Linked DNA regions of Homo sapiens: region 1 is linked to region 2. Evidence: fine-mapped expression QTL. Tissue or cell type: unexposed skin. Region 2 holds a variant in brackets; the other region holds the start of a gene. All regions are shown on one strand. Distances are between the middles of the regions. Region 1 holds the start of GPM6A (glycoprotein M6A). Region 2 overlaps LOC107984113 (a long non-coding RNA gene).

The links.
Region 1: GPM6A starts here. The variant in region 2 is fine-mapped to the expression of GPM6A in unexposed skin (GTEx, PIP above 0.99).

What each region holds. Positions count from the first base shown.
Region 1 is chr4:175,809,957-175,815,354 of GRCh38, reverse strand. GPM6A (glycoprotein M6A) reads left to right here and starts at 3,091. Exons shown (of 7, transcript NM_201591.3): 1 at 3,091-3,164. The coding sequence starts at 3,128. It overlaps GPM6A-DT (GPM6A divergent transcript), which reads right to left. Exons shown (of 8, transcript NR_125901.1): 8 at 3,166-3,495.
Region 2 is chr4:175,936,238-175,941,635 of GRCh38, reverse strand. All of the region lies in intron 3 of LOC107984113 (a long non-coding RNA gene), which reads left to right. It also overlaps a transcript of GPM6A not described here. Among named protein-coding and RNA genes, the nearest start is that of GPM6A, 130 kb to the right of the region's middle. The variant A/G (reference allele first, on the strand shown) is at 3,029.

The DNA.
Region 1 (5,398 bases), 130 kb after region 2:
TAAAAAATAATCTTAAAACCACCATTAGCAACAACAACTTGGCTGGGCTTGGTGGCTCACGCCTGTAATCCCAGCACTCTGGGAGGCCGAGGTGGGTGGATCACCTGAGGTCAGGAATTTGACACCAGCCTGGCCAACATGGTGAAACCAACCCGGTCTCCACTAAAAATACAAAAACTAACTGGGTGTGGTGGTGCATGCCTGAAATCCCAGCTACTCGGGAGGCTGAGGCAGGAGAATTGCTCAAACCCTGGAGGCAGAAGTTGCAGTGAGCTGAGATCATGCCACTGCACTCTGGCCTGGGCAAAAGAACGAGACTCCATCTCAAAAAAAAAAGAGAAAATCATCAACAACTCAACTGCCATCAAACAGGAGGAAGGGGAAAGGAGGAGTGCGTTTTTAATGGGCACAGAGTTTCAGTTTGTGGAGATGAAAAAGTCCTGGAGATAGCTGGTGGCCATGGTTACAGAATGATGTGAATGTACCTAATGCCACTGAACTACAGATTTAAAAATGATCAAAATGGCAAATTTTTCTTTTATATTTTACCCCAATAAATACTGAAAGCCTACTGACAGGTGATTGCTGTGAGGAGGCTATGTATGTGTATGCATCTCTCTTAATTCATTTGACGAGTCCATTTGGACTGGCTCTGAGGACTTTTTTGTATATTTTAAAAATTGGTACAAGTTGATGTTGACTTATGTTGGTAACAATTGTCACATGAAAAAGCCTGTTTTAGACAAAAAGTGAATGGTTATATGAGTGTATTCTGCTGCAAAATTTCCAGAAGAAAAAGAAATCATGAATATTTTTAAAATTTCCTTTCCCTCTCATTTCCCTCTTTTGCTTTATATGTGTGGTGAAAAAGAAAGCTATGAACTGAGGCTGATTTCTGAAGATGCTGAAGATACTCATAAAGGAACAGAGTAGGAAGGAAAATTAGCTTCTAAGATCAGAACATTAGGCAAGAAATCAACAGACATGGGTTCTAAGACTTACTTGGTGATTTATTAGCCCAGTCTCTAGGTGTCCCTGAGCATCCGTGTTTTTTGTTTTTTGTTTTCATCATAAAGTGGGGAAAATTATGCTTTTCCCATTTGACTTACAACGGGTTAATGTATGTAATCATGTTTTATAGATTGTAAAGTGTTCTAAAAATTTAAGGTGACATTATTGTATCTACTGGCACTACAATAAACAATTGCTTTCACTAATGATTTCCATGGTATAAAACGAATGAAGGATCTAAATGAGGAGCGTTGCTCCGTTCTGTGTTGATTATATGCCAGGTTATGTCAGCCTAGGGATGAGTTGAAGCAGAGAGGCTGCTACAATTTGGCTTTTTGATTTCCCTTATGGTTTCTCTCTCTCAATCTGTGCACTGAGCAAGCAGCTCTCTCAAAAACCCTTGAATACACATTGATATATATTCCAAAGAGATAGGTTTTGAGTTATTTGAACTCCAGTTATTTTTGGACAAAATTCATTTGAAAAGAGAAAATAATAACAAATGATTATACAAGTAAGAGGACTAAACATTCATTTATGAGAAATAAAGTGGAATGCAGTAATTGTGTTTCCTCTAAATAGCTGCTTTTGTAATATTTAGAGGGTGATGTGCAGCATGCTACTGGCCTGCTTTAAAGAATGCATGTGAAATACAAGCTATAATGCAAGAAACGTATGCTATGGATAATGAGGATGTGAGCTATTTTTCATTAAAGGCAGAGAGTTACAGTTATGTCTGTGTGTGTGTCCTTGTGTGTGTGTGTGCCTCTCCGTGTGTGTGCTTGTGTGTGTCTTTCTGTCCCTCTGTGTGTGTTTCTGTCCCTGTGTGTGTGTGTGCTGGCTGATTTGGAGATGAAGACAGAGGCAAGGATCCTTTCTTTCTACTCTAGGAAAGGTTTATGCTCCTTGAAAGAGATACTGTTTATTTTCTTGCTATACCTTTTGTGAAGTATTGAGACTCTTGGACTGTGCCCTGTCACTCAGTAGGCTGAAGTACAAATGCTAATTATCGCCAGACTGCAGCATTGTGATTTGCATTCCAAATCAGCTTGCAGATTCCCATTATAAATTGCTATCCTCTTGTTTCTTATCTAAAATTTGTTCCTCCCTTACATCACTCTTCTCATTCCCTAACACTGACCTTTAAAGAAATTCCCTTTCAAGAGATTCTCATTGGAAACCAGCAGCTTTCGTGGGCTATAATCATAACAATAAATAACAAAGACATCAATAGGGTTTTTCCTTCCAGTGGTTTTCTCCCTTTTACTTAAGAGTCATATGGCACTAAGTAAAATAATTACTTAAAACATGTATCTCTCAGGCTTAGAGCTTTATACTCACTCCTTTGACAGCCACGCTTCTATTTCTTTTTAAATCTCAAAGGTGTGGGATTACAAGTCCTGTCTTAGTAATAAACTTTTGCAGATAAACCCTGAGATGGTATAACTGCATCCTTTCTTGGCACCTTAAATCAAATTAACTAAATACTTAGTGAGGAGAGAAAAGGAAAACACAGTTTTTTTGCAACGTATCTGACTGGGTGAGAAGCCACTGCTGCAGCATAAAGAACCGACGGGAATCTGGGCTTTCCCACTCTGGAATGAAGGGGGGAATTACGGGTTGGTGGTCGGCTTCATGTTAGGAGGACACCCCTCCATCTGTTCACAGCTCAGCCTGTTTCCAATTTAAAGCCCAGATTTCAATACAAACCTCAATTTCTTTTCCCCATTTTAAATGCAAAGCAAGACTTGTGAATCATAGTGTCTCTGCTCCTGGGATTCAGACCAAATTTCCCCCCAAAATTCTCAGGCTATTTGTTTGAATACCTGCTTACAGTGGTACACAATGGGCAGCTTTGAGAAGAAAAATTGATAATCTTCACGGAAGAGTAATTTGAATGAAATTACACTTGACAGCCTGTCTCCAAGCAAACAAGAGGAACGAGGGAGCCTGAGCTAAGCTCTGAGGACTTGCCCAAGCCACTGCTGTTGGAGCTTCCCAGGAAAAAAAAAAAAAAAAAAAAAAAAAAAAAAAAAAAAAAACCCCCAGTTTTTCCAACATCTAATTGAGCTTTTGATTAATTCCGTGTACCAGATTCTACTGAAGAAAGGTAGCCATGGAAGAGAATATGGAAGAGGGACAGACACAAAAAGGTACTGTGCTAAAAGCGTTTATTTGTAACTAAGTAATTATTTTGCAGTTTCCTTGTTTGCTTTAGACACTTGCCAGTAAGGCTAATGAATGTTTCTCTCTTGGAAGGCATTTTGTTCCTTCCTCTCCTTTAGTCTGTTCCTCACTTGCAGTAATGTCTGGCACGAATGTTGTCATTATTTGCAAATCTTTCAGATATAAGTACCGAAATGCAGAGTCGAGTATTAGTGAGAAGAGCATTGCGGTATTGTAGTGAACTATTCCTTAGACCAGTCTTTGTTAACCTTCATTTATTTCGTGATTTCACACTTGCCGAGCTGGGTCAAGGGATCCCTAGTGTGAGCCACAAATACAATATTTGGAGTTAGTTAAAAATTTGGTGATGGAACCATTATCCATATCTTTGCATGGACATCTGATAGAACAAAGACCAAGACCATTAATTATCTTTTGATTGGTGCACCTTTTTAAAACAATCTTTAAAAAATAAAAACTAAAAACGAGGATGCAATATAGGTTTAAGCAGATGGAGCAAAAGTTCATAAATTTTCAGGGTGTATGGAAGCGTTAAGATTTTCCTTTCTATATAGTTGACTGTAATCAACTTCTGAGTAATAATGTTAAAGGAAATTTTTTTATGTGTTTTTAAAGCTTGTCTAGGTATATCTGGCTGTATGAGTTAAAGTGAAATTTCCATTTTTGAAGGTTGAAATGGTCAAATATTGGTAATTTGGAATGATTCAATCAACTCGAGAATTGTTTTAACGTGTCAAATGGTAGCTTCAGAGGGAGCTAGCTTTCACCCCAGATAGGCAGCGTTTCTCTCGTCTGCTGTCGGGCTTATGTAATGTCAGAGAAAATGGTCTCATTTTCTTAGTACTGAAGCAGTAACACAGGTAATACTACATAAAGGTAATATTCAAGAGTAGTGTTGAAAAAGATTCAGCTGTCAAAGTTAATTTCAAATGTATATAAAGGCACTTATCGTAAAAAACTGTATTTTATGTGATAAAATATATAGGGTGGAAGCACAGTATAGTTACCATATTTTTAGCCATTTAGCTATGCTGGGTTTCTTCTCTTAATGTACACACACATACTTTGAGGCATATATGGTGCATACACACACACACACACACGTAATAAAGGACCATCGATATTAAATACATGAAGGTTTTATATAAGCAAGAGATAATAGATAAGTTGATTTCCCAATTTTAGTCCTTAGTACCCTTATTCATGATAATCTGTAATAGAAACACAAAAATCTACATTAATAGCATGTGATCTATTTTTAAATTAAAAAACCTCAGCTCCCTTTATTATATGCACAAATAGCCCAAGTTTTCATCAGTGATTGTAAATGGGACATTTTAATGGTAATTTCTGTTCTTACAAGACATCTCAGTGGACTATTTTAACTTAGAATAAATTACCTTATGACAACATCTTTTTTGTAATACCTAATAATGATACTTATTGGCCGATCAATTTGCTTAAGGAAAGATAAACAGCATTTTAAATAGAGGAATGATATTCATTACACTAAATAAAACCTTGAGTTAAATCATGGATTGTGGTAACAGGTTGAATGTGTCTGAGCAAGCCTTGGTAGATGCGGGAACCAAGAAAAATGATGTAATTAGTTGTGATGTTTTTTTCTCAGGTAACACTGAAAAGCTTTCTTTTATGGGGGTGGAGGTGGCTATGCCGTGAGGGGAAGATTTCTGTCACAGTGGGTTTTTCCTCATTAATATATGCACCAGCAGCAGTGGTGGAAAGCAGTTTTAAATCAGAAAAAACGTTTAGTGGTCTATCAGTTTGTAAATGTATATGAATACAATATTTATGATTTAGGTTTTTTTCTTAATTGAGAAAAGAAGATGTAATTTTCTTCACTCTTGATCTTCTGTTCCTCTCAATTACGCCTATGACACCTTTTCTATATAAGTTTGTTGTTAGAAAGTTACATTTGAATCGAAATGCTCTGTCGATATGTGCGTGGGTTGTAACTGTGAAATTACTGGAGGAGCAATTTGACAAGCAGACAAAATCGTTACAGATTTTTCAAGAGTTTAGGTGGAGAGACTTAATGATCTGTCTAAAGAAAAGCAGCATTTTGTGTTAGTTCTTATCCTGTTTTTCTTAAACTGCATAGGATTTTCTTAAACAATAATTCAAATAGCACAGAGTTTTCTTCCATTTGCAAGAAGTAAGTGGCTTTTCAGTCTTTTCT
Region 2 (5,398 bases):
TGTTCTCACTCATAAGGGGGAATTGAACAATGAGAACACATGGACACAGAGAGGGGAACATCACACACCAGGGCCTGTTGCGGGAGGTGGTGGGGTTAGGGGAGGGATAGCATTTGGAGAAATACCTAATGTAGATGACAGGTTGATGGGTGCAGCAAACCACCATGGCATGTGTATACCTATGTGACAAACCTGCATGTTCTACACATGTATCACAGAACTTAAAGTATAATTTTTTTAAAAAAGAAAATAAGCTTCTAAAGTGGATTGATGTTAAAATAACTAATAAATTTTTTTTAAAAGATGAAGGCTTATTACAAATGAGACGTCTCTAGTATTATCCCTAACATATTAATTAATATGCATTTAACAATTTTTTCTCTCCAAAAACATTATTAAAATGATGTTCATTATTTAGAAACCGAAATTGTTAGATTTCTGTGACTAAGCAGTTGAGCCAGAAACCAGTATTTGAGCACTCACATTTTCCAAACTATGGATAAAATAAACATTAAAATTCCCTGTGTTGAAAGTCTGAAGAATCTTTTATATCACTTAGTAAAAAACAGTATTTCTTAATGTTTGTTAAGCTCCTGTACGCCAGGGACACTAGTAATTTCTCCCAACATCCTGCCATGAAATGGAAGACCAGCCAGAGTTTAATCTGGCTTTTTAGCTCCTATTTCAGTATTTCTAACTTAACTGTGCCAACGTAGTTAAAGAAGATATACCTGGGCACAGTGGCTCACGCCTGTAATCCCAGCACTTTGGGAAGCTGAGGCTGGCGGATCACAAGGTCAAGAGTTCGAGACTAGCCTGGCCAACATGGGCAAACCCTGTCTCTACTAAGAATACAAAAATTAGCTGGGTGTGGTGGCATGTGCCTGTAATCCCATCTACTCAGGAGGCTGAGGCAGGAGAATCGCTTGAATCTAGGAGGCGGAGGTTGCAGTGAGCCGAGATCGCACCACTGCACTCTCCAGCCTGGGCGACAGAGTGACACTCCATCTCGGGGGGACGTGGGAGAAGAAATAAAGAAGATATAAAAAATGTTATAGGTATTTCTATTCACTTTTACTATAATTTCATAGCAGAGCAGCTGTTATAAATGAAATATCAACAAATTTTTAATCAACAATAGAACTTTTAGAGTATTAGAAATTTTTAAACTTTTCTTTGCATTTTGATTAATATGATAGTGCTATTATTACTATTCTTAAATAAAATATATTTTACTATCTTTCTGCCTAAGTAAAATATTTGATAATAAACTAAAAAATGCATTATTTTTCTCATAAAATTACAGTATAACACTTCCCAAACCTATAGGTAAGTTTTCTGTGAGACTGTTAAAAGTAATTTTTATTGTAGATTGTTGTGATGCTGCTCCCAAACATATCTGAATCATATTTACGTTGGCTAACATGAGAAGATACACACATTTTCAAAAAGAATCAATGTACGGTGCTTTTATGACTCCCCTGACTCCAAGTCACCTTACCTATTTTATTATTGCTAGTCTACCAGGCATTTTTAATTTCATTGGTAAAACCAGTCCTGATACAAAATATATTTGTATTATAAAATAATAAATGAACTACTGCATCACTATTTAATCACTATTTATGTTTCTCTGTTTCTTCCTTAACTGGCATGTTAAGATCTTCATGGCATGTATGCATTTTCTCAGAAATATTATATGTAGTCTGGAACCAGGCGCTATGGTTCTATTTGTGCTTATGGAAAAACTTATGATTGCCAAATGTCAGGTTTTTTTTTTTGCTTATTAAGAGTGAAGCAGATAAATGCAAAATAAAAACTTGAAAAATTTCCTGCTATTAGGATTTAACTTTTTCTTGTTGCTTCTGTTGAAAGTCATCATATCCTAGTTCTAGGTCACCATATACATTCATTCATATGTAGTTTATTACAAAATACATTTTAACTTCTAGCTGAATTTTCTTCTGACTTTTTCCATCTGGTAGGCTTATATTACAGTTAATGGACACATATAATGGTTATATTATGTTGTTAACTGAAACAGCTATAAAATTAGTGAACTATTTAATTGCCATTTAAATTGGTGAAGAGTGGCCTCTCTTTAATTGGGGAAGATGTATTTATTGGATTTTTATTTAGTACTTTTAACTTGTCTGGCAGCAAATGTAAATCAGCCAGGAAAGCATAATTCTATTAAATGTAGCTGTACTGCTTTAAGAGATACAAAAATCTCTTAATTCAGATAACAGATTTTACATCAGGAAGTGTACAGATTACTAAATTATTCACAGTTCTAAATACTCCAGGAATGAAACTGTAGACAAAGATTTGAAGACTGCTACACGAGCTTGCCTATTGTTTTACCCCCTCAGGGCTCTTTGGCCCTGCAGCAGCTGAGTAGTATTTATTGTATTTGCTGGAACAATACTGGGTCTTCCTTGCATTCATTCTGAATTCAAACTCTAGTCCAGAGGGGTGATCGATATAATTTAGACTTCTATGCAGATACCCTTAATTGGCAATTATAAACAGGATTCACATCTTTAGGTATGGCATATTTCAAAACCAGTTTTCACCCTTTTTTGTTTATTTATATTTAGCATTATTCTTTTGGTTACTAGATAGCATTTAAATTACAGAATGAATTAAGGAAAAGATTGATTATGGATTTTGGCAAAAGCTGTAACACTGTTTGGTGAAACCTTAGAATGTAATTTGTTTCTAAAATCACAGTTGACTTTAGTCTTTTTCCCATTTCTTATTGATACATAATATTTTACATATTTATGAGGTATATGTGTTTGTTCCATGCATAGAATGTGTAATGATAAAGCCAGTAAAGCCAGGGTACTTGGAATATCTATCACCTTGAGTATTTGTCATTTCTTTTTTTTTTTTGGTTTTACTTTAAAAAAATTTTTATTTTACTTTAAGTATCTGACAGAGGTCTAATACCCAGAATCTACAATCTGTTATTATGTATCCTTACATAATTAAGGATTATGTACAAGAAATAAACAAATTTACA[A/G]GAAAAAAACAACCCCACCAAAAAGTGGGTGAAGGATATGAACAGACACTTCTCAAAAGAAGACATTTATGCAGCCCACAAACAGAAAAAAAAGCTCATCATCACTGGTCATTAGAGAAATGCAAATCAAAACCACAATGAGATACCATCTGAAGCCAGTTAGAATGGCGATCATTAAAAAGTCAGGAAACAACAGATGCTGGCGCGGCTGTGGAGAAACAGGAACGCTTTTACACTGTTGGTGGGAGTGTAATTAATTCAACCATTGTGGAAGACAGTGTGGCAATTCCTCAAGGATCTAGAACCAGAAATACCATTTGACTCAGCAATACCATTATGGAGTATTTGTTATTTCTATGTGTTGGGAATATTTCAAATCCTCTCTTTTAGTTACTTTGACATGTACAAAATATTATTGCTATGTATAGTCACCCTATTCTGCTATCAAACATTAGAACTTATTTCTTTTCTTTATGTTTGTACCTATTGACCAATGTCAAAATCATTTTAATAATGTAATAAATTATTTATCTAAAAAATATTGAGAGTGAGCCTAAGATATAGAAAGTTAACACTCAAACTCTATGTAATCCATTCACTTGAGGTCACGTCCATATAAATAACTGACTATCAACTTTAGAATTAAATAGGGTGGTAGAAAGTCACCTCACTAGCCTAATTACATTATTTTATTTCAGCTTTTGATCTAAGTGGCACTTGTAATTTAGGTGCTTTTTGTTTTCATTGTAAAAATGGACTATTCATTTAGCTTAATTTTGCTCTCAACTTTGTGTTTTTACTTTAATATTTTTCTAATAGCCAGATCTTTTTTATATTTTAATTTAAATTAATTTTAAATTCAACATTGTGAATGCAACTTGTTTAAAAAATTCAAGTAAATATATAAAATAGAATAGTCTCCTTCATATCCTTACAACATTTCACCTCTCCCATTGTACTCTCCAACCCATAGGTGATCACTGTTTTCAACATGCTGGATACTTTAAGGTTTCATTCTATTTATTCATTGACTTGTTCATTCATTAATCAAACATTTTAAGTACTATGTTTCATGCAGAGTATCAGCTCCATTTGTACATGTCGGAAACTTTTGTATACTTTTATGACATGAATTGAGTCACACTATGCAGCTTGTTCTGTAACTTAGTTTTAGATTTATATTTTCAGTAAGTTTTTTCATAGAGGTACATATTGATAGAACTAATTTGCATCTTAAATGCGTTAAAGTGCATTAAAGACTGCATAGACAACATAATATGTATGTAAACTAGTGTATTTAATTGAGGGGCATTTGAGTTGATTCCTTTTAATTTACTATTTACAAAGAATGCTACAATGAAAAGTTTGCCCTTGAATGCACATATGTCAGTATTTCCATAGAGTAAGTAGACTTCTAAAAGTGAAATTTCTAAGTCAAAGAAGAAGCACATTAATAATTTTAATATTTTGATAAATTGCCATCTCCCAAAACTACTCCCATTTTTAATTCTAATAAAAGAAATAGTGGTTTCTGTTGTCTGTACCCTTGAAAGTGCTGGAAAACATCAATCTTATTTATAGGTATCTGAGGAAAAGATATAATTTACATTTGTTTTAATTTTGATGTGATCTTCCATCTCTCTAAACTCCACAATAGTCAAGATGAAGGAAAAATTTTCACATATTACTGGACATTTTTATTTTTTGTGACTTCTTTGTTTATATTGTTTCCTTATTTTATTATTTACTTACTTGCCTTTTTATTATTTATTTTTAAGAGTTCTAAATATATTATGGATATGAACCCCCCACTACAATTTACCACGTAGTTTCTCTGAGTCTTGTGCTTATCTTTTAGCTTTATGGTATTTTTACTCTACAGATGCTTTACGTTTTTATGGGTTTTTTTTCTTCAATTTTTAAAAAGTATTGCTTCTGGTTTGATATCTTGTTAGGTTATACTTACATATCTTGACATTCTGAAATATTCTTTTATAAATGTTGCTAAATCTCTTAAGTGTGCTTTAACATTTAGTTATTTATTTATGAATTCATAAAATACCTATTGAATGCCTGCAGGCTGCTAGGATTTGTGTCAGATGCAATGTAGAGCAATCCCAACTGCTCTCTGGGTAACTATGTTCTAGTGGGCTAAAGGACTGGCATCACATATGCAGTTTAATGCATGTAGTTACACATTGAGGAAAGTGCAATGAAGGAAAGGTATGCCTGGAAATTATTTTAATTTTATTATATAACAGGAATGTATAGTTTTTTTTTTTTTTTTTTTTTTTTTTTTTTGGAGACAGAGTCTCGCTGTGTCGCCCAGGCTGGAGTGCAGTGGCGCGATCTTGGCTCACTGCAAGCTCT